Homo sapiens: one gene and its partners. The protein of the gene in region 5 purifies or fractionates together with the protein of the main gene of each other region. This does not show direct contact. Each region holds a gene or a part of one and is shown on either strand. Other genes may lie near its edges. The genes, in order: MMS19, TTC39C, ALDH3A2, RTN4, TMEM43, ENDOD1 and CAV2.

The links.
Region 1: the proteins of TMEM43 (region 5) and MMS19 purify together in Homo sapiens (affinity purification with mass spectrometry; 2 studies listed by BioGRID). This does not show direct contact.
Region 2: the proteins of TMEM43 (region 5) and TTC39C purify together in Homo sapiens (affinity purification with mass spectrometry; 2 studies listed by BioGRID and IntAct, with this or other methods). This does not show direct contact.
Region 3: the proteins of TMEM43 (region 5) and ALDH3A2 purify together in Homo sapiens (affinity purification with mass spectrometry, with the first as the bait; one large-scale study listed by BioGRID). This does not show direct contact.
Region 4: the proteins of TMEM43 (region 5) and RTN4 purify together in Homo sapiens (affinity purification with mass spectrometry; 4 studies listed by BioGRID and IntAct, with this or other methods). This does not show direct contact.
Region 6: the proteins of TMEM43 (region 5) and ENDOD1 purify together in Homo sapiens (affinity purification with mass spectrometry; 3 studies listed by BioGRID and IntAct, with this or other methods). This does not show direct contact.
Region 7: the proteins of TMEM43 (region 5) and CAV2 purify together in Homo sapiens (affinity purification with mass spectrometry; 2 studies listed by BioGRID and IntAct, with this or other methods). This does not show direct contact.

What each region holds. Positions count from the first base shown.
Region 1 is NC_000010.11:97,491,923-97,495,422, reverse strand, and holds part of MMS19 (MMS19 nucleotide excision repair protein homolog), read left to right. Parts: intron 1-3,500. UniProt on the Homo sapiens protein: Key component of the cytosolic iron-sulfur protein assembly (CIA) complex, a multiprotein complex that mediates the incorporation of iron-sulfur cluster into apoproteins specifically involved in DNA metabolism and genomic integrity.
Region 2 is NC_000018.10:24,080,754-24,084,253, reverse strand, and holds part of TTC39C (tetratricopeptide repeat protein 39C), read right to left. Parts: coding exon 3,315-3,500; intron 1,342-3,314; coding exon 1,173-1,341; intron 1-1,172.
Region 3 is NC_000017.11:19,672,751-19,675,423, forward strand, and holds part of ALDH3A2 (aldehyde dehydrogenase family 3 member A2), read left to right. Parts: intron 1-400; coding exon of another isoform or gene 401-484; exon of another isoform or gene 485-525; intron 526-2,673.
Region 4 is NC_000002.12:55,029,952-55,033,451, reverse strand, and holds part of RTN4 (reticulon-4), read left to right. Parts: intron 1-3,500. UniProt on the Homo sapiens protein: Required to induce the formation and stabilization of endoplasmic reticulum (ER) tubules. They regulate membrane morphogenesis in the ER by promoting tubular ER production.
Region 5 is NC_000003.12:14,138,552-14,142,051, reverse strand, and holds part of TMEM43 (transmembrane protein 43), read right to left. Parts: intron 2,873-3,500; coding exon 2,755-2,872; intron 460-2,754; coding exon 257-459; 3' UTR 1-256. UniProt on the Homo sapiens protein: May have an important role in maintaining nuclear envelope structure by organizing protein complexes at the inner nuclear membrane. Required for retaining emerin at the inner nuclear membrane.
Region 6 is NC_000011.10:95,092,846-95,096,345, forward strand, and holds part of ENDOD1 (endonuclease domain-containing 1 protein precursor), read left to right. Parts: intron 1-3,500. UniProt on the Homo sapiens protein: May act as a DNase and a RNase. Plays a role in the modulation of innate immune signaling through the cGAS-STING pathway by interacting with RNF26.
Region 7 is NC_000007.14:116,502,738-116,505,889, forward strand, and holds part of CAV2 (caveolin-2), read left to right. Parts: intron 1-3,152. UniProt on the Homo sapiens protein: May act as a scaffolding protein within caveolar membranes. Interacts directly with G-protein alpha subunits and can functionally regulate their activity.

The DNA of each region.
Region 1 (3,500 bases), on a different chromosome or scaffold from region 5:
AAATGCAGAAGGAGCACCCTTTGATCACAAAAGCAGCTGCTGCCACCTTTGTTTTGTACCTGGGTTCCTGGTGAAAGTGTCAGCTGTAAAGAAGCTGCAGGCGATGGGAGGGAAATAACCTGGCAGCCTAAGGGTTAAAGGCCTCTTGGGCAAGCCTTCAAAGCCTGCCACTACCTGGCCCCAGCCTTTTTTTCTCACTGCTCCCTGGACGTTTAATTCCAGGCAGCCACCTTTATTCGTAGTTCCCTGAGTGCTTTCCTTCCCAATTCCCTTCACTAGCTCTGTGTAATCGAAGTTAGACCTGAGAGTCAAGGCCCAGCTTGAGTTCCCTACCCCTCCCCAAGGGTTTCCTGATTAACCCAGCCAGACAGCATCTCATACGTCAGAATCTTTGTAGTACGCACTTATTTCTCAACCACTCATGTATTTAGTGGACTAGTTTAGTAGCTGTTGCTGTATACATCTCCACATCCTACCCTCCCAGTTGTACCACCAGAATCTCCTGAAATTGGCATCAGTAGGTACACAATAAAAACTGCTTGAGTGAATGCAATGAGAAATGTTGAAGGAAGAATCTGTGGAATTTGAGTTCTAACTAGTTATTATAGGGCTTGAAGGAGATAGAGGACTCTAAGAAGACCCCAAGGTTTTGAACCAGAGGATGAGGAAAAGAAATACTTTGTCCAAAATTAGGACGAGAGCTGATTTTCAGAGAATGTGATTTTTGAACACGTTGAATTTGCAGGTGATGGATATAATTTTTTTCCTTTTAGTTATTTGGATTTTCCTTCATTTCAGTCTTTATTGTATTGTGTTTTTCCATGTTTGTGATTCCCTAAGAATACCTCTATTCCTTAAGTCAAAGTATTAAAGAACAGTAAAATACAGTTTAGTGAAATATCTGAGGCATTATCAGCAGAAAGGGCATTTTGAGAGCTTGATTGGAACTTAGTCCTGATTGGGATTTTTCTCTCTCCTGCTCCTTCTCATCCTCCCACCCTACCCGCTTCCCCTCACTTCCCTTTGGCTGCTAGTCCAGATTCTCAAGAGGCTTCAACTCCATCAGACAGAGATCTGTTTGTGCATTCTGTGTCAATGATCACATGAATACTCCTTTGACTTCTCAGTGCCCCCACACAAACTGGTGCCTTGCTAAGGAAAGTGTGGGTAGTTAGGAGGTGCTAGTAGGTCCATTTTTAAGAGCAAATCTTGAACGTGTTGGAAAATCTTAGACCCTCCTATAAAGGGAAATGAACTTACACTGATTTTTTCCTTGATACCAGCGAAAATACCGTTAGGAAAATTAACTCTCTGTTAGCTTTCTTCATCCCAGGAGTCCAAGTGCATAATTAATAGTATTTCCAGGTATTACGGGTGTGTTGTTGTTGTTGTTTGTTTGTTTGCTTTTGAGATGGAGTTTTGCTCTGTTGCCCAGGCTGGAGTGCAATGGTGCGATCTCTGCTGACCGTAACCTCTGCCCCCCAGGTTCAAGTGATTCTCCTGCCTCAGCCTCCCGAGTAGCTGGGATCACAAGCATGCATCACCACACACGGCTAATTTTGTATTTTTAGTAGAGATGGGGTTTCTCCATGTTGGTCAGGCAAGTCTCTAAACTTCCGACCTCAGGTGATCTGCCTGCCTTGGCCTCCCAAAGTGCTGAGATTACAGGTGTGAACCACCATGCCAACCCTGGTTATTTTTAATTTTGGATAATTTGCACCATTAAAAGAATTAATCACTTAAAGTTAGTGGCCCATGGTCCATAAACCCAGGAATTTTACTTCTTTCTCATGCCAACCCAATCTCTGTTTATATCACTGTGGTAACACAGAACTTGTTACACTGTGATTGTTTTATTTATTTATTTTAGAAGCAGGGTCCACTCTGTTGCCCCAGCTGGAGTGCAGTGTGACCTCGAAGAACTTCTGGGCTCAAGTGATCCTCTGGCCTCAGCCTCCAGAGTAGCTGAGACTACAGGCCCGTGCCACCACACCTGGCTAATTTTTTTGTAGCGAACAGGGCCTTGTTTTGTTGCCCAAGGTGGTCTCCAACTCCTGACCTCTAGCGATCCTCTAGCCTCAGCCTACTGTGATTGTTTTAAATGTCTTTCTGGGCTAGGCATGGTGGTTCATGCCTGTAATCCCAGCACTTTGGGAGGCTGAGGTGGGAGGATTGCTTGGGCCCAAGAATTCGAAACCAGCCTGTACAGTATAGTGAGACCTTGTCTCTACAAAAATCTTTAAAAATCAGCCCAGCATGGTGGTGTGCCTGTAGTCGCAGCCACTTGGGAGGCTGAGGTAGGAGAATCACTTGAACCCTGGAGGGAGAGGTTACATTGAGCCAAAGATGGCACCACTGCACTCCAGCCTGGGTGACAGAGCAAGACTCTGTCTCAAAAATGAATAAATGAATGAATGTTTGTCTTTCTGCTCCAACAGACTATGGACTTCCCCAAAACTCCCTGCCCATATTTCTATCTTAAGCCCTAACATGGTACCCTATTTATAATATTCAGTAAATGTTGAATGAAAACGAACATATGGCTTTTTTTTTTTTTTTTTTGGGAGATGAAGTCTTGCTCTGTTGCCCAGGCTGGTGTGCAGTGGCGCGATCTTGGCTCACTGCAACTTTAGCCTCCTGGGTTCAAATGACTCTTCTGCCTCAGCCTCCGAAACAGCTAGGATTACAGGCCCATGCCATCATGGACAGCTAATTTTTCTATTTTTTTTTTTTTTTAGTAGAAACAGGGTTTCATCATGTTGGCCAGGCTGGTCTCAAACTCCTAACCTCAAGTAATCCACCTGCCTCGGCCTCCCAAAGTGCAAGGATTACAGGTGTGAGCCACCATGCCTGGCCACCATCTTCCTTACTTTTTTTTACGGTCTTGTAATAGCTTTATTATCTCATTTTTCTCTAATTTTTTCTTTCTTTTCTTTTCTTTTTTTTTTGAGACAGAGTCTCACTCAGTCGCCCAGGTGGGAGTGCAGTGGCTCCGTCTCCACTCACTGCAAGCTCTGCCTCCTGGGATCACACCATTCTCCTACCTCAGCCTCCCAAGTAGCTGGGACTACAGGCGCCCGCCACCACGCCCAGCTAATATTTTTGTATTTTTTTTTAGTAGAGACAGGGTTTCACTGTGTTAACCAGGATGGTCTCAATCTCCTGACCTCGTGATCCGCCCGCCTCGGCCTCCCAAAGTGCTGGGATTACAGGCGTGAACCACCGCGCCCGGCCTCATTTTTCTCTAATTTTTTCTACTTTTATACTTTTTTTTTTTTTTTTTTTTAGATTGAGTTTCACTCTGTAGCCCAGGCTGGAGTGCAATGGCATGATCTCAGCTCATTGCAAACTCTGCCTCCCAGGTTCAGGTGATTCTCCTGCCTCAGCCTTCGGAGTAGCTAGGATTACAGGCATGCGCTACCACACCCGGCTAGTTTTTGTGTTAGTAGAGACAGGTTTTTGCCACGTTGGCCAGACTGGTCTCAAACTCCTGACCTGAG
Region 2 (3,500 bases), on a different chromosome or scaffold from region 5:
CCTCAGCCTCCCAAAGTGCTGGGACTGCAGGCATGAGCCACCATGCCCAGCTTATATCTCAATTTTCAACTGCTAGTATAATCTCTAAAACACATCTTCCATATACAAAGCACTTAGAAAACTGCTCTGCATGGTCTTCAGATTTAAGGAGTCACTTTATGAAGGAGAAAAATGACTGGGAAAGTAATATACACTCCACTGCCTGCATCCCCACCCCCAAAAAAACAAATTATTCCTGTGCCCATGAAAGCATTTCTAGGCAAAAATCTTCAAAAGGACTCATGGGGGCTGATTTCTCAGAGTGCCTGGTTAACTGGAGGACAGATGTTGTTAAAATCTCAAACTGATTCCCTGATAACTCTTGGTAACAATGTAGATGGAGCAGCTACTATAACAGCTATCTTATTTCATAGGTATGATTAATTTCTTATAGTTTCATTTTTCTACAAATCCTCATAACCTCAAACAAGCAGATAAAAAGATATGCAAAGGAGAAGTAGACTCCAAAGGCCAGCGCATTTCTGGTTCTGGAGTGAGACAACCCAGGCTCACTCACTGGGCAAGCACAGGAAGTTGCTTGAAGCCCTCTTAGATCCCTGTTTATTTTTTCTATAACATGCAGATGACAATTTTACACCTATGTCACAGGGTTGTTCTGAGGATGAAATGGAAAAGCGTGTATAAAGTTCTTAACGCAGTACTGAGCCAAATTAAGCACATGAAAATGTGATAAAAGCTCCTAGTATTTCAAAGCTCATGTTGCCCTGATATTTAAGGCAGTAACTTTTGTATAAGTCAATTGTTAGCCAAGATCAAAGTTTAGAAAGAGATTATTAGTAATTCAGAGAGGGAAAAAAATTGTATTTTGTATTTTTCAACTCAGCAACTAAATAATGCTCACGTGCCTTAGGCTGGAAGTGCACCAATCTTGTGTCATTAGCAATGAGGAATCTTACCCCTACTTCGCCCACATCTTCCGAACAGAAGGTAACTGACTAACATCCTGGGTTCCTGGAAGAGTCTTCCCTAGCAAAGACACAAGGAAAGGCAAAAGAACAAAATGCTCCGGGGCCCTGGGACATTCTGGCTCGTTTTAATACCAGTCCTCAAGTGAGAATCAGAGATTTGATCATCGGAGGCTTTATTTTAAAAAGATGAGGAAGGTACAGTACCTCTAGTCGTTGTATCCGTCCCTTGAAAAACATAAAGAGGGAAGAATTTGGATAAGCAGCTTCTTTTTTAAGGAGAATTTCCTTAGCTTCATCCAGGCCTGCCTTGTTATCACTGCCATCCAAGGCAAAAAACGGGCGGACTACAGTATGATACCAGAGCAGAGCTAATCTAGAGGAAGAGGGAGAGAAACATTGAGCACATTAACTTTCCTTACACCATTTCCATTTTTCAAAACTCCAGTATGTGTTCTTCCAATACTACTCTATCCAAAAAGCTTACTATGCAGTCTCTGAAGAAGTAAAATCAGAGACTTTCCCCATTTTAATGTTAATATTTGGAAAACTGCAACTTTAGCACAATATATAAATCAGAAGACACCCTTCCCTCAGGGGAGAAGAGAATAAAGTAACAGGAGCATTTAGCTTTTCTGAGCCTTCTAGATGGATCGCTGAAGAGATGGCTGACATAAATCTCTGAATTCTACACTTTACTCATTAATGCACCAATTAGAAATGGTAACTAGTCACCATGAGTTTACCGTTCCCTTGTAATAAAAGCTTTATTTATTTATTTTTGGCAAAAGGAAAATGTTGTTTTCTCTTGCGTTCACAAAACTTAGGGTATAAACCTAGAATCTAAGTTTAAATATCATGCACAAATAAATAGGTCAAAAGGAAAAAGAAAATTTATAAAAAAGAATAAATTTAAATATGGAAACCACAGACACAAATTATACTAAGTTGGGTTAAAATAAGTGAGGGGATAAGACAAAGGGCTCTTTCTCTGGCCTTTGAAGATGTTCAATTTAAAAAACAAGCAAATAAATAAATTACTTCAGACTCCCTTGCTCCAAACTCATTATTTAAAAAAAAAAATGGCCATGTTAAACTAGGTAAACAAAACAGAGTCACTGGGATTTGTAATCCTAGCTACTTGGGAGACTGAGGCAGAATTGCTTGAACCGGGACCCGGGAGGCAGAGGTTGCAGTGAGCCGAGATCGCGCCACTGCACTCCACCCTGGGCTACAGAGCAAGACTCTGTCTCAAAAAAAAAAAAAAAAAAAACAACAGCCAGACAAAAATGTTTAACCAACATGTCAAATATTTTTATGTAAATGCATACTTCTGGTGTGCTTATAAATTTGGTTCTCTTATGGAGCTCATACTAATGACACTATTAATTCTATTCATTTCTTTATCAGAGATAAGCATAAAATATTAAGATATAAACAGACAAATGATCACAAGTTAACAAACCTATTAATTCACATTAATAAAGGACAACTGTGTACTTCAATGAGTTTAGGGAGGCATAATTTTTTTAAATGAAAAATTAATGGTATTTTAAATAGCTATCAGTTGATTAAGAGTTAACATCCAAATTTCTCAATACTGATACAAGTAGAAATAGAGGTAAGGTCCTCTATGATATCAACATTTTTGGGGAAAATTTTGACAAGTGCTGTAATGTTAGACAAAGAATATCCGGAATCGTGTTAAATTACTCAAGTTACAAATGGTAGATATTTGCCAGACTAAAACAAACAAACAAAAAACACATCACTTTTAACTGATGTAGAAATTGGTGAATTCTTGTTCTAGATAGTTATATCAGCTTCCTCATGCTCTCCTGCTTAAATAATTATTATTTAAGTTTAAACCAAGGAACATAACATGACTCAGTTTAGCGAAAGAGCACAAAATATCCATGTCACATATAGGAAACCACCTTGAATCATCAAGGAAAATTACCCAATGTGAGAATTCTTTATAAGAATAAAAATTTCAGAAACACAGAAAAAGCTTAGCAAATTTGTACCTCCTAAGTCCAAAAATCAGAATCGTGAATCTCAGAGAATGTGGTCAAAGTCACAAAAACTGCTTATAAAATCATTTGAGGTTTTAAAATACATGACTTGTGAGACTAGTGAACAACGCCTTGTTCTCTAACTAAAGTCAGCTTAGAACCACCACCACGACCACAGAACACAGTCCTTGGTGTTGCATTGAAAGACATAAGACACAGCACCCTGTCAACCAACCAAACATTTTACCTGAAGTTTCCTTTAAAGTCTTTGATTGTCGTTTACTTACTTTCAACACTATATTATCTACCAAAGCATTGCAATACAGCTACTCACGTAGCTAAAGGGGCCTTCATGTCCTTACTTTCGCTTGCATACATCAGTGAAGAAAGCCCCTGTAGGCGGTCTCCAGGAAAACCCAGCAGGTTGATGATTTTGAGCAGGTTTGGGGGCACCATGGATATGCAAAGGTGAAAAAGGCCATATCCAAAGCTAACAGCACCTTTCAGTCTGTTCAGAGAC
Region 3 (2,673 bases), on a different chromosome or scaffold from region 5:
ATTTGAAAGGGGGCCGGCGCAGTGGCTCACACCTGTAATCCTAGCACTTCGGGAGGCTGAGGCAGGGGAATCACGAGGTCAGGAGTTCAAGACCAGCCTGACCAATATGGTGAAACCCTGTCTCTACTAAAAATACAAAAATTAGCCAGGCATGGTGGCACGCACCTGTAGTCCCAGCTACTCGGGAGGCTGAGGGAGGAGAATCACTTGAACCCGGGAGGTGGAGGTTGCAGTGAGCCAAGATCATGCCACTGCACTCCAGCCTGGGCAATAGAGCGAGACTCCATCTCAACAACAACAACAACAAAAATTTGAAAGGGGTTTGGCTCATCTTACAGTATCCCAGCCTTAGTGGAATTGGAGATACCAGTTGCATTTGAAATCATTTGGGTTTTCTCAGAAATACCAAGCTGTGCTGAGGAGAAAGGCCCTGTTGATTTTTCTGGTAGTTCACAGACTGCGTTGGTCCAGTAAGCAGAGATGAACACCAGATTTCAAAACCCAGCCCTGTCTGTTAAGAGTGAGGTAGGAACTTTTTGTTTTCTTTCTATATGTAAGGTGGGCCAAGTTGGGGTATGTTTTCAAGGGTTTTTTGGTTTGTTTTTGTTTTTGTTTTTGTTTTTGTTTTTATTTTTGTTTTTTTTTTGCTACAGTTGGAGGCTTAAGGGTTATTGAAAAAAGAATGGGCCGGGCGCAGTGGCTCACGCCTGTAATCCTAGCACTTTGGGAGGCCAAGGCAGGTGGATTGCCTGAGTTCCGGAGTTCGAGAACAGCCTGGCCAACATGGTGAAACCCCATCTCTACTAAAAATACAAACGTTAGCTGGGTGTGGTGGTACGTGACTGTAGTCCCAGCTACTAGGGAGGCTGAGGCAGGAGAATTGCTTTAACCCGGGAGGCAGAGGTTGCAGTGAGCCAAGATTGTGCCACTGCACTCCACCCTGGGTGACAGAGCAAGACTCCGTCTCCAAAAAAAAAGAAAGAAAAAAGAATGTTTAACTTACTTATCTCTAGACATTTTGGACCTGGGCCCAGAGTATCAGGGTGTTAAAACTCCACTTATCCACAATTTTAAAAGGGTGAAGTGACTTGCTAGGAATCTAAGAGAAGTGTGCAGAGGCAATGGCTTAGCTGCGTCCAGGTGAAGCATACATCATTTCTTGGAAAAGGGCAGCTGAGTGTGAGCCTCATTTCTCTTCCCCTTCTACTCAGCTCTCCTGGGGGAGGTGCCAGCTGACTAATTCAGACTTGTCACCATCTAGGCACTGAACTCTTTATGTCATAATTTAAGAATATGTTTTTTAAATCACTAAGTAGTTTTGATTTGTTTTCATTTTTAAAAAAAGGTTTGACTTTGGAATTCATGGCAGCAAATGTCGTGAAATCAAGGTGTAGTATACAATTTAGGGGCTACTTTCTTTGCCTTCCTGAGGCTGGAGGTGTGGTCGGAAGCTTACTTGGGTCTCTGGTCAATATCTGTCTCTTTTGTTCTTTTCCCAAGACCTCGGTTCCTCAGTTTGATAATGCATCTTGGTAGGATAGAATATTTTAGCCTCATGGAAAATACGGAGGCCCAGGCTGAGTCTGCATTCTCCAATCTTACCAAACCCCCAAGAAGCCTCCCTCAGGTGCAGTGCAGTGTGCCAGGCAGGTTCGAGTTCCCAAAGGGTTTGGCAGGCATGTTTCTCTGTGAGGGTCTAGAGAAGCAGCAATATATAAAAGAAGCAGCAATATATAAAACCTTTAGCAGAAACAAAAAAATGTGGTTTGATTCCTGGCTCAATGAACTTGGGCAAGGCCTTTTCTGAGCTCTTTCTTGGGCCTCAGCTTGCTCATCTACAGGGTGAGGGAGTAGGTGTCAGTGATTCCCCAGGCCACTTTCAACCCTTCCGCTCAATTCTCATTACTAATAGTTGTTAATATTTCTTTGGATTCAATCTGGAACTAGGTAGAGATTTGGTTTTCTTTTCCACTTTGCTGCTTTTCTGCTCCTTTCTGAGCTTTTAATCCTCTTTTTATCAAATTACCTTTTATTTAAAATAAATGACTTTGAATCTGTACTGTATATTTACCTGAATAGTCTATTTATTGTAATTACATTTTTCTGAAATGGCTTTTATGTACTTAATAGTTTCCTTATTTTGTTACACTCTTGGATTTTATTTTATTAATTACCTTACTAGAATTAGAAGGGATTTAGAGCAGAAGTATTGTACACAAAGTAAAGTTCCAATAAAGCTTATAAGCTACAGAAGGCATTGTGGGAGATGTGGGTTTTAAAAGGTCGAGAAACATAAGAGGTTAATGTTGATAAATTTCATTAGGCCTTTGACAACTAAATATGACATTTGAACCTTGAGATTGCAGCAGCCCTTCCTCAGTCTTCAATAGGAAGGATTAAATTCAGTACTACTTTTGAATTTTAGAAACAAAATTGTATACCAGTTTTTGAATTCCATGTAGAGACTTCAGCTTCCTACTGAAAATGCTAGGATAATAAGTTAGTACTCTCATCTTCTGTCTCTACTCTGACATTAGCTAGTTGACAGTGGACAGAATATAGCCTTCATTATCACGTTGTCTTACTCTTATTGTTATTGTTGTTTTTTGAGGAAGGGCATAATCCTTTGGCCTAAACCGTGCTTCCTAGGCTTCCTAGGGATATGTAGTCCTT
Region 4 (3,500 bases), on a different chromosome or scaffold from region 5:
GCTCATTGCATGTCCTGAAAGTGCTGCAAGTATGGATTTTGGGGCTACAAATTTAGTGAGCAGGTAAATGAGCAAATAAGGAATCCATGAATAATGAGGATCATCTGTATATAATTTTAGATTGTCAGTTTTTTCATAACTTTAAAGGCGTTCATTACCTTTTGGATTACATCAATGAGAGGTGAGGTCATTCTTATTGTTGTTTACCTGCTTTTTTCCTCTGACTGTTTTTAGGGTTGTCTCTATCTTTGATTTTCAGTTTGACCCTTATGGTGTGCCTTTTTGTGGTGTTGTGTTTATTCTGCTTGGAGTACATTGAGCTTTGTGGCTCTGTTGGTTGGTATTTTCAAAATGCCAACTTCTGTCCAATTTTAGGCCATTTTTTCTTTTTTTTTTTTTTTAACTTCTTCAGTCTTTTTTAAAGAGACAGGGTCTTAACTGTGTTGTCCAGGGTGGAGTGCAGTGGCGTGATCATGGCTTGTTACAGCCTCAAACTCCTGGGCTTGAGTGATCCTCCCATCTCAGCCTCCTGAGTTGCTAGAACTGCACGTGTGCACCACTACACCGGCTAATTTTTAAGTTTTTTGTAGAGATAGGGTCTCACTGTGTTGTCCAAACTGGTGTCCCAACTCCTGGCCTCAAGTGGTCCTCCCACTTTGGCCTCCTAAAGTGTTGGGGTTACAGGCATGAGCTCCCATGCCTGGCCACTGTTGCTTTTTTTAAGGGGACTGCAATTATAGGTATTTTAACTCCTTGATTGTCTCTCAGCACTGAGGCTCTGTTCCTTTTTTCACTTGCCCTTTTCCCTTGTTGTGTTTCAGTTTGGATACTTTCTGTTGTTGTTTTTTAAGTTTGTTTATCAATAAATCTTTTTTTCTGTATTGTCTAATCTGCCTTTAAGCTCATCTAGTGATTATTTTCAGTTAATATAATTTACAATTCTAGCATCTCCATTTGGTCCTTTAGTCTATATTTCTCCACCAAGATTCCCTGTCTACTCTATATGTCTGTCTTTTTCTGTACTTAATATCTTAATAGCTATTTTAATTTTCATTTTAATATTTGCTAATCCAGGCCAGGTGTGTTAGTTCACACTTGTAATTCCAGCACTTTGGGAAGCTGAGGCTGGCGGATCACTTGAGGTCAGGAGTTTGAGACCAGCTTGGCCAACGTAGTGAACCCCGTCTCTACTAAAAACACAAAAATTAGCTTGGTGTGATGGCAGACACCTGTAATCCCAGCTACTCAGAGGCTGAGGTGGGATAATTGCTTGAACCTGGGAGGTGGAGGTTGCAGTGAGCCAAGATAGCCCCGCTGTACTCCAGCCTGGGTGACAGAGCAAGACTCCGCCTCAAAAAAAAAAAAGTGCGAATCCAACGTCTACGTTATTTGTTTGTTTATATTTGCTATTCTTTCTTATTTATGGTCATATTTTCTTGCTGCTTTGCATGTCCATTAATTTATTTTATACTGCATGTCATGGATTTGGTGGTTTTAACTTTGTTCTGGCAGGCAGTTAATTTGCTGGAAAATCATTTTGATCCTTTCAAGTTTTGATTTTAAAGTTAGGGTGGGTCTAGAGGTAGGGGTCTGCAGACTTACAGGGCCAGTTAGAGTAAATAGTTTAGGCTTGTGGGCCATACAGCCTTTGTCTAAACTGTTCGTCTCTGTTTTTATTGTGCAAAAGTAGTTATAGACAGCACAGAAGTGAATGGGCGTGGCTGTGTTCCAATACAATATGGGCTCATGAGCCATGGTTTGCTGACTCTTGGTCTAGAGTATCCTTTAGGCTTAGAGTAGTCCTGCTTGAGGTGTTTAGAGAGATCTTTCCTTTCTGACTGGTCAGAATTTTTAGATCAGGTCTTCAGCACTTTCTGACCTTCGATATAATCCAGTTAATTTGCAGCTCTACCATAGGTTTCTTGGCTAGGCCTTGCCGAGTCTTGTGCTGTGCACATGCAGCGTAGTATTCACCCAGAGGTTTAAGAGGAACCCCTATCCAGATTTTTGGAGCTCCTTTTCTGTGAGGCTTTACTTTGTATGTTACCCTGTCTCACAAATTCCAGACAACTCCTCAGCCTCCTCAGCTTAGCAAGAGTGCGGTATTCTTAGGCTTCTCTCTGTACTGTAGACCAGAATGTGCCTTCAGACAGAAAGCAGCGTAGTCATCTTGCAGGTTTCCCTTTTCTCAGGATTCACACTGCTGTCCTGCCTCTTGTCCAGTGTCTCAAGATAGTTGCTTCTAGTATTTTGCCCATATTTTTAGTTGCTTATATTGGAAGAATTAGTCTGTTGTAATTACTCTCATAGCCAGAAGCAGAAGTTCTATGGTTTTAAAATGCAGGTTTTTTGTAGTATTGTAATTAGATATGATTTAAATGCCTCTTTTCTCGTATGTGAAATGGGGGTAACAGTAGTACCTACCTTACAGGGTAGTTTTGAGAACAGAATGAACATCTGAAACAAATGTGCCGGCTCAGCACAGTACCTGTCCCACATTAATGTTTCTATAAATGTTGTTACATTGTAAAATAGAAGCAATTGATCAATGCAATATTTCTGCTAATTACAAGGTATTTACTGGGTGACGATTTACCTTGTTTCAGGAGAACTAACTTGAGGGGCTGATACAGTAAGAAGGATTGCACCAGTTGCACTTGTACATAAATACATCCTTCAGAAGATGAAGCACATCTCGTGCTTTGAGGAAGCCTAGCCAAAAAATAATAATAATTATAAAGCACAAAGACTTGGGAATTAGATGTTTTGACCCTCTGGCCTCCTAGTTCTGTGACTTAGGGCAAGTTGTTTCTTCTTTTTTCTTTCCCTCTCCCTCCTTCACAACATTTTTAGGTGGGTACTCTTATTATCCTTATTTTACAAGTTTCATTAGGCACAGAAAGGCTAAGAGTTACAGTTGTAAGTGATGGATTTGTGATTTGGACTTAGGCAATTCAATTTCATGATCTGTGATTGCTTTATTAGGAGTCTGAACTGTATTCTTGAAGTCCCAGAAGATAGTTAACTATTCTGGATTTTTTTAAAGAGCTTTTAGAAATGTAGTACTTGTTTTATGGGTAACTGGATCGAATCCCATTTTACAAAATGAAGATTTTTCTTTTTTTCTTAAACATAATGAATCTTTGAAATACCAATTTGAAAACTTTTTTACTTAGAAAAATTCCAGGAATATAGTTTTTATTATAAAAGATTATTGCACTAGGTAGGAATAAGAGTACAGTACATTAAAAAAATACTTTAAAATTATGGCACAAATTTAGATGTAGTTTGTTTTCCCACTAACTTTAACAGTAATATATGTTTCTAGTTCACTTTCCAGATAGACTAGCCTCTGAATTAGTGGCTTTTAACTATATTGTCTAGATAAAAAAGACAACCATTTTGTTAAGAATTGGTTAACTGTTATTTAGATGGAGCAGCTGCGTAATTATTTGGTTCTGCTCTTTGACCCTCAAATTTCAGTTTTATACAAGCTAATA
Region 5 (3,500 bases):
GAAGCTGTCAGCTTGCCATTCATGAGCTGCTGCTGCCCACCAAAGCTGCTTACTGGCAAGAAGAGATGTGGGGAAGACATGAGCTGGTGAACACCAACCTGGTGCACATGCTGCCAAGTCTGGCCCCTGAAGAGGAGAGGGAGTGCAGAGTCCAAAATTGACCGGGGCTCCTGCTCTGGCATGGAGCTGGGTCAGAGGTGAGAGAGGACCTGGATCCTAGGGCTCACGCAGGTGTCGGGCGGGTGCCAGGGTCTTTTCACTCCAACTTTTTGGCTGGCACCCGTGTCCGAGCAACAAGGATGGGCACAAGGGCCAGGCCGGCAATGAGGAGGGCCCACAGGGGTCGGTAGAAGAGCCAGCCAGCCGCCACGGTCAGCAGGGTCAGCGAGGTGGCCACACAGAAGGCAAAGGCTTTCAGGCCAATGTTGACCAGGTCTCGGAAAACAGGAAACCAGTCCACTGTGGAAAGGAGAAAGGTGATGAGGTGCCACCTGCTCTACACCTCACCAGCTCAGCAGATCTCTCCTGTCCCTAGATGAGGATGGGCCCATGTTGCTACATGCATGAGGAGGGGAGAGGATCAGTGGGTGGAAGGCAAGGAGCTTCGTTCTGAAAGCTAAGGGAGCACAGGAGCCTCTGCTATGAGCTGCGTGGTTGGGCACATTGCCTAAGCCACCCACTCTACCCTGATCCAGGGGAGAGGATGTAGCAGTGCTTTGTAAACTTTAATACTTTATGTGGAGAGTAGTCTGAGGCCAGTATAAAGACATTTGCCTGTAATGCTAGAAATAACCTGGGTCCTGCACACTCATACAAGAGGCTGTGGGTGGAGCCTCCTGAAGGTGCCTATTTGGGCCTCTCAGCCATTCCTAGAGGTGTTGGTTCATTCATGCAGCAGGCTGTTACTAATGATTTATGTGCCCAGCACTGAACCAGCAGGTGCTAGAGGAAATAAATTAGCCTAAGCATTGGCCTCTCCTCAAGAATCTCACAGACTATTGGTCCAATAGGATAAAGCCCAGAATCCAGCTAAATTCATGAGGAATTACCCTATTCTTGCCTTGTGTGACCTCTCCAGGTTGGCATTCCATAGCTGATGTCCACTCAGGGAATCTTCGCTCAGTTCCCAGGAGGCCACCAATGGTCTGGAATCACTGGGTTTGCAGAGCAAGCCCTGGTGCCCCACCATGCCTGCAGCACACCCTGCAAGCCACTACCTGGCCTCATCCTGATCTGTTCCCATACAGCACTGCTACTCAGCCCTTATAATAAGCAAAGTTCATGTTTCTGAACGTTGCCTGTGTTAGGCACCATGTGCACCATCTCATGAAGCACTCATGCCCACCCTGTAAGGTAGGTACTCTTCTTAACTCCATTTTACCCACAGGGTCACTGAGACTCAGGGAATTAAGAAACTCACCACCAGTCCTCCTGTTAGAAAGTGCCAGAACCAGGATTTGAACTCAAGACCGTATGGGCCCAGAGCCTGGGCTCTGAGCTGTTGCTCTAAGTCTTGTCTGTCTCTAGCTGTGGAGTCTTACACACGTTGGTATTTATCAAACGCATGGGGAACTGTGTGCTTCCCTGCTGCGCTCCCAACTCTCCCCACCCACCCTGGGGGTCCCTCCACACTCTAAGTCTGTCCTGAGTCTGGCGCATTCCAGACGTAGAGTGAATTGGGATCACAGACATCAGAGATCCAAAGAAGGGCCCACTGAGACAGACACGAGGAAACCAAGGCTCCAGAAGGGAACTGGTCTCCCCAGGGTCACACAGGCAAGAAAGAGGATTCCGTTTAAATGCTCATCTCTCGCTAATGTGCCCACCACGTCACTGGTCTTTCTGAGCACAATTCAGCTGTCCAAAGAAAGGCTCAGGGAGAGTCCTTCCCTTCCCGGGCCTGTTTTCCCAACTGTAAACAAAGGAGGTGGTCCCCCCAGCTCAGACAGCCCAAGATGTGCAGCCAGACCTCTTCTGACTTGTGCATGCTGAGTGGGGAAGAGGTTTCTGTTGGCACCCAGAGAAGACTGATGCAATCATGTGACTGGAAGGGACACACACCAGGGAAAGGCTTGGATGGAGAGTCCTCCGAGGAACCCCATCCTCCTGGGCCCAGAACGCACTTAGTCACCCTGGGCACTCAGATCCCGAACCACGCTGGGCCACAGGTCTCCTACTGGGCTCACTGGTGCCAACCTCAGGTCAAGGAGTGGCCCAGAACTCTCCTTCATGCTCCAGACTTGCTGGCTGCCCAAATCTAGCCCAGGTTTTGGAGTGAGGAAGGAAGCATGAGAGTTTTGGGTGTTTCCTATTTGCCACATTTCATAAAACTCTGCATGTAAGGGGTGAGGTGACTGAAGCTGAGATGGGAAGGGAACGGCCAAGCATCCAGAGCTTGGACGTGACAGATTTCAAATGCAGGTCTGGCAGGCTCCCATGTGGTATTCAATTGTGGATCAAAGGAATGAGCAAATGATCGAGCCAGCAGATGGACGAACCTTCAGGCTGTGGAGTGAGACCAGTGCCCCAGAGTTGGCCCCACCCAGCCTGGCCCCTGGCAGCTCCTGCCCTCAAGCCTGCCTTCCTCTGCTCCCTCATCCCAAGGCTATGGAGCGGGGACACAGAGATGAGCCAAATGCCTGGTATCTGCACAAGGGCCATCCCATCAGGCTGGAAGGGCTGAGATGATGCGACAGGCAGAGGAGGCCCTTTCAGGGTGCAGGAGGGAGGGCAGTGACCCACCCCAACACCTACCCAAGGTGTAGAGGATCCGTGTCATAAGGTTGAGGCCCATGAACATGGCCATCCAGCCAGCTGCCCGCAGGCCCCAGGTCTTCATGGAGTTGCTCCTTAGTTCTCTATGAAACACCTCCTGCAGGACAAGGTGGGGGCAGGTCAGGATGCTGAGGGCCAGTGGCGTACCCAGTCGGCAGGGCAGGTCCTGAGGGGGCTGTACCAACTCGGGAGCTGTTGGCCATTTCTGAACAGGCCAGACGGAGTGGGGGCAAGCCTCCTATAGGGCTAAGTCCTTCTGCCCATCTGGCAGAGCACAGGGCAAGGCATGAGATCTCTGTGGAACGTACGGGCCTTCCTCAGCTCAGAGCCTGCCAGCACCTGGAGCCCTCAGCCCACGGTCTCACCTGGAATGAGCAGGACCCTGCCCACCACCCCTGAGCAGGTTGGAGGATGTCTGCTGGGCAGCATGCTCTGCGCTATGTGTGTGATCTGTTTAATCTCAGAACCTCTCCACATGGCTTGGGGACACTGCACCCTCCTTCTCAGGCTCCATCGCTGTCGCTGCCCCTCTTCCTGTCCATTAGATGCTGCAATTCTTTAGCTGCTTCAGTCCATACTCTCTCCCCGGACATCCCATCTGCTTCCTTGGCCTCCACATGCCGTGACCCTCCAATTTAAAGCTGCAGCTCTGGCCCTCTCCCGGGCCTCACAGCCCTGCAGCTCCCACCACCTCCACCACCTCCTTGACATTTCCACTTGACATC
Region 6 (3,500 bases), on a different chromosome or scaffold from region 5:
CTTGGCGGCTTCCAAGCATTTTATAATGCTGAGTCTCCTTGTACCCACATCACCTTTTTATGAGGTCAGTGTTACCAAGAGGACCCGCACACAGGGGAGGAAGAGGCAGGAGACCAAAGGAACTCAGTGCTTGCCTCCAGTGATGAGTCAGGCAGGGCAGCAGTGACACTGAATTCCCAAAGCCCAGTTCGGCAGCTTTTGAGTCCACACTGCAGTTTCCCTTTGAAAAGAATCTCCTAAGTCAAAGATCACAGAAACTTAGTCACTCTTGTGCTGAAAATCTGTAAAGTGTTGCCTGCCCAGCCCCTACAGGACAAAGTTCACACTGCAGAATGCAGTTTACAGGCTCTCCATAGCCTAGCTCCTGTCTCCAGCTCCAATCTAGTTTCTCACCATGCTCCACCCTCATATTTTATGTTCTAGCATTATCCAGCTGCCTGGAGTTCCTCTCATAAACCAGACTGTTTGTGATGTCTGTTTCTTAGCTCATGCTGATTCCCTTTGCCCAAATTCCCTTTCTACACAGACCCCATCTTATCCTTCACTTCCTGCCCTTACTCCATCCTTTAAGACTCTGCTGAGGTGTCACCTCCTCCAGAAAGAATTCCCCACCTGAACTGTATCCACCTCCCAAGTTAGGTTCACCCCTTCAGTGCTCTTATAGTTTTTCTATTTTCATACTTACCATGTTGTTTTGTAATTATCTGCTTATGTATCTGTCTCCCCAACTTGAGCCCTTGAGGAATGATGATTGCATCTTACTCATTCTTTTCCTAGTGCCCAGCTTATAGAAAGCACGCGATAAGTGTTGAATAAAATAATTTGATGTTGGGAGGATCAATCAGGCAGGAGCAGGTGAGATGTTCTGCTTCAGTTTTCTCAGTGGGGCGCTTCCTGTTTCAGAAGCTTGCACCAGGGCTGGCCAGCAGCAACTGTTACAAACATGCTCCCTATGCAGAGCTGGAACCCTGCTCTGCAGCCACTCCATCAGTCTTAGCTTTGGCCTTTGAAACTATCCCAAATGATTTTGATCTCTGCTCTGCCTACAGGAGATGGTTTGGAGGAGTTCTAGTCAAGACTCCAGAAACCTGAGAACTGGATTCTGGTTTAGTGCAGGAAGCCTCAAACCTTTTAGTTTGTTGACTCCTTTCCACTTAATGGAAGAATTTTTAGATAAGATGCCAATGATACCTTTCTAAAGTGCATTGCTGATTTATGCCAGAAGCCAACATATAAAGCTCTATCATTTTATAAACATGGAAGGAACTGAATATATAAATTATATAATTAATATATTATACATATTAATTATATAATATATAATTTATATATTCAGTAACAATAGTGTATATTTGTTCAATCTTAAAAAATACTGTGAGGTAGATATTATCTTCATTGTAGAAAGGAGGAAACTGGCTAAGGGAGGTTAACTGAGGTGTTTTAGGGTCACACAGCTTATTTTTGAACTCATTACTGATTACTCTTCTGATACACTGTGGAGATTCTTTGATCTCACAATGGATCCACTGCGCTAATGGTCTTAGGACTCTAATTTTCATCTTTTATGTGAGAATTCTAATTTCTACTCCACTTCTATTTTCTGACAGTCATAGGACAAGTGGGAGCACTTACTTGGCTGCATAAAGGTTGCTCAAGTGTCACTTTACTCTGGAATGAAGGGGATATTCTGGTTAACTGCAAAAACATTTTCCTGGAGGGCACAGTGAGGTCTTACTTCAGATCTTAGTAAATGCAAATGGTTGTTTCAAGTTAGAACCTTGATTAAGTCCTTGATTTTTAATTTCCATCCATGGCTTATACAACCTGAAACAGAAATACTGTTCAATTTGTTCCAACCTCAGCCTTCTTTTCATTGTGTCAGAGAACAGATATATAGAGCATCATACACTTAAATCTCTGTGTAAGGAATGCAGTGAACAGGACAATCCTGATTCTTACTCCTTAATTAAGAGACTTAATTCAGATCCCTGCTCTTCCATTTACAAGCTATGTGACTTCCAGCCCCATTTTTTGGATCTGTTCATTAAAGGTTGTAAAAGTGTTTATAGAGAGGTTGTGACAAATAAACAAGATAACACATGAGAGCATGTGGCATGGTACCTGGAATATGGTAAACTCTTAGTAAATATTAATATGTATATAAGGTGTTACTTCAGTAGGTGCTAGGCGTGTGCACGCACACACACACACACACACACACACACAAATGGAATGTTGGATTAGATAGGTGACATCTACAATTCTGCAAATCTCTCCTAAAAAGTAAAATATCTATCCATGTATCTTCTCAAATGCTTGGTGTATGTCCCACATTCATACAGTAGCTGCTTCATAAATGCATGATGAGAGATGAAATGTGTGGAAGATTGAATGAATGGATGGAGGGTGGATTTGAGTGATTAAAAGCAAAAACAAACCAAACAGGTACCAAAGACATCTCCACCCTCTCTGTCCTGGAAAACCAAGAAGTGTGTTGTCAGAAAACAGTGAGCAATGGCATTCCAGTCTATTGTGCTGAGACTGGATAAGACTGGGAAGTGCCTGACCCAGGGGATGGTTCCAACCTTTGTTGAATTTTTCCCTTCTGGCTTTTTCTTCATCTTTGGATTTAGTGTTTCCTTTTGTTTTGCAGGCCATTCTCAGGATCAAGTTAAGGTATTTACCTGCGTTGGCAGAATATTTCAGGGACATCTGTCCTGAAGCAGTCCAGTGGTGACAATTCCCTATACTATTCTTTCAGTTTAGACTTATATCTGGACAATCTAGGCAAGGAACTATCATTTATTGATCCCTTACCATGTCAAAGGTCTTCACATTCTAACTCATCTCATCTCTATAACAACTCTAGGTATTATGACTTGTGTTTTATAGTTTAGGAAACTGAGGTTCGGAGTAGTTAAGTAACTTATCCAAGGTCAAACAGCTTCTAGATGGCAAAACCTGGACAGGAGTTTATGACTGCCCAAATCCAAAGCTCTTAACTCTCTTTATTCTCTATCACACTATTTTCTAACTAAAATGTTAGTTTTTTCTCTCCAGAATCCAAACTGGCTGACTAGACTTGTTATTTTATTTTTAATCCAGTTCTTTGGATGGTTTATGGTTTCACTACTAACATACCATTCTGTATGTAAATGCCAGCTTCAGATTTCTTTTAGCTCCGTTACTGGTGATTCATGGTGATTGAATGGAGCTTTCCTTAGGGAATTGAGATTTTATTCTTTGGGCATAAAATTTCTCTTCCTTTTAAACTCTCATCTCTGAAAGTGAAAATTTTAGAAAGTAAATCCTCTTATTTGCCAGTAGCATTTGTTTTCAGTTATCTGGTCTATCTTCTAGAATTACTGTTAGTCAAGAAAGCTTTTTTTTTTTTTTTTTTTTTTTTTCAAATTTCCTCCTTCAAGATGCATGTTATATCTTCTGAATGGTGACTTACCCTTTCATTTTCATGAAACTTAACATCTGTCATAGTAATAATT
Region 7 (3,152 bases), on a different chromosome or scaffold from region 5:
TCCTTTAAACAAACAATCAACAACAATAAAACACAGAAGTCTGGTGGTGTTGGATCCTAGACCAGAAGTACGGGCCATTAGGAATCAGTGAATTAGTTGGATTCCATACTACAGTCAGACAGAGATAGCTGCTGTTTGTTAAGCACAGGTTATTGGTCATAAGTGGATCATAACCAAAGAAATGTGGCTGGAGCACCCATATCCCTTATTTTTGCTGGAATGCAAAGCAAACAAATGCCCAACTGATGGAAATGCGATAGTAGCAATCTCATTTCTAGAAGACAGTTTTCATACAGTAAATTGCTATGAATGCAGTCTGCATGACTCTACAATTACTACAACACTAAATAAAAGTCTCTATCCTATGGCCTTATTATCCAAGGATATATATTATCCAAGGAATATATAACCTTACATATATTAATATATATAATATATATATATTATAAGATTTACTTAAGAAGTATTGGCCACATTCAGCCTCAACCAAATTTTGGGTCAATCAGAACTGCCTGGAGTTTCAGAAGCTAAACTATTTGTGATGTTGAGAACCCAACTTAAGTTTGATGTCGGAGGATCATTAGATTCTCTGCTCCAAAATGAGGGAACACAAGTAAACAAAAATAAAATCCAAATGAGTTAACAACACCCTATAAACTGAACTCCTCGAATGTGGGTAACTGCTTTGCTGAACAAGAAGATTCACTTTTGACATGTGCTAAATTCCCTTTTAGGACATGGAGATCTAAGGAGTCACGGAGATAGAAAATTTGTTAGCCTAAGGAAGAATAGAAAGTACATTGTATTCTGGCTGGGAGCAGTGGCTCTCGCCTGTAATCCCAGCACTTTGGGAGGCCAAGCTGGGCAGATCACTTGAGGTCAGGAGTTCAAGAACAGCCTGGCCAACATGGTGAAACTCTGTCTCTACTAAAAATACAAAAATTAGCCAAGCATAGTAGCAAGTGCCCATGATCCCAGCTACTCAGGGAGGCTGAGGCAGGAGAATCACTCGAACCCGGGAGGCGAAGGTTGCAGTGAGCCGAGATCACTTCACTGCTCTCCAGCCTGGGCAATAGAGTGAGAACCTGAAAAGAAAGAAGGAAGGGAAGGGAAGAGGAGGGGAGGGGAGAAGAAAGAGAGAAAGAAAGAGAGGGAGGGAGGGAGGGAGGGAGGGAGGAAGGAAGGAAGGGAGGGAGGGAGGGAGGGAGGAAGACAGAAAGAAAAAGAGAAAGAAGGAAAGAAAGAAAGAAAAGAAGAAAGAAAAAAGAAAAGAAAGGAAAGAAAGAAAGAAAGAGAAAGAAAAAGAAAGAAAGAGAAAGAAAGAAAGAAGGAAGGAATTCTAAGTGAAGTGGATTTGGTTAGGAAACTTTCTGATCTAAACTTCAGCCTTTTAATAGGCCAATTTGAGGTCATCTTGTTATAGTTATTTTCATTATATATTCTGCCTTCAAAATAGGTCTATTTATTATACATTATAATGACAGCATCATACAGGCATTTCAGGGGTACATAATAAATGTCAATCCTCATAGCCAGTTCTGAGAGATCTCCTGGTGTCACTTTAATTTGTAGCAACATGCCCAAGACCACATATCAAGTGAGAAATATAATAGAATAATAAGTCTAAAGTTGCCATCATTGAGGTTTCTATTCAGCTATTTATCTCTGAAACACTTAGTAATTAATTTTCTTATTATATAAAAGTGTTTCATGTATTTAGCACTTGAAATAAAACACAATTTGTGGAGACAGTCAATGTGAATAATTCTATATTCTAAAAATATATCAATCAATCAGAAAGCTGCCTAATATTTCCTTCATTTTGGGCTAAGTACAGCAGACCCTCATTTAAGTCATATTTTAATAGCAAACCAAGAAAATCAGCCTACTCCCTTATGCCCACCCAGGTAATAATAAAGCTTCCATTGAGGCTACCAGCAGTGCCTGAAAATCTCACAACTACTTTTGTGCTCAGAGGACATTACTACAACAGAGAACATTATTTAGAAAATTACATATAAAATTAACCATCCTGAGGACTATAAGGATATGCAGCTATGTTAGGAACAAGTGTATGAAAAATAACAATTTCAGGATAGACTAGTTTTCTTGTGTAAAAGTTCTAACATCATTTGCAGGGTTCTTTCAACTATACCATACAGCCCTTTTCAGTGTGTGTGATTACTGTGAAAAAATTAAAAAATATAAAACATAGTTAATAACATAAGGCATAAAAGAATGATAAATTTATGTTAGCTCAACCATTTACTAAGGGTCAAGGATGTCCTCACTGTTTAAAAAAACTTAAACGCTAGTAGGAAAGACAGAAATACAGCATCTATTTATAATACCTTTTGATACATGTGAAAATTAAGAAGTTTGTTTCAGTACTTTAGAAATACAATGAGGGAATATCCGATCTAGCCTGGTCCAGGAAAAGGGAAGAAGACTGAGGCAGCAGGAAAGGCTATCAGGAAGTAAACCCTCAGGGAAGTGTGAAGACTTAAGCAGGTTAATGTTAACTGGCAGAGACCAGGTAGATAAAGACATGGTTTTATTTATTTTTGTTTTACTGTTTCAGATAGCATGCCACCAGTAGAAAGAATATTAGTGTTTATTATCTACATGACTATATTTTTAGGCAACATATTTTTTGTGCATCTTATCACTTTAGTCCATTTGCATTACTATGAAGGAATACCTGAGACTAGGTTATTTATAAAGAAAAGAGGTTTATTTTTGCTCACAGTTCTGCGGGCTGTACAGGAAGCACAGTGCCAGCATCTACTTTAGGCAAGGACCTCAGGAAGCTTCCACTTATAGTGGAAGGAGAAGGAGGAGCAGGCACGTCACATGGCAAGAAAGGGAGCAAGAGAGAGAATGTGGAGGTCCCAGACTCTTTTAGTTAATCAGATCTCAAGCAAACTAACTGAGTGAGAACTCACGTTACCAAGAGGGTGGCAGGCACTAAGACATTCATGAGGGATCTACCCGCTGTGATCCAATTATCCCCACTCGGCCCCACCTCCAACACTGGGGACTACATTTCAAAATGAGAGTCAGGGGGACAAAAAACCCAAATCATTATCAGTGATCATTGTTCATTTATTTGTTTCAAACTCTCAACCAAATTTAAGTAAATGGGTCAGTAT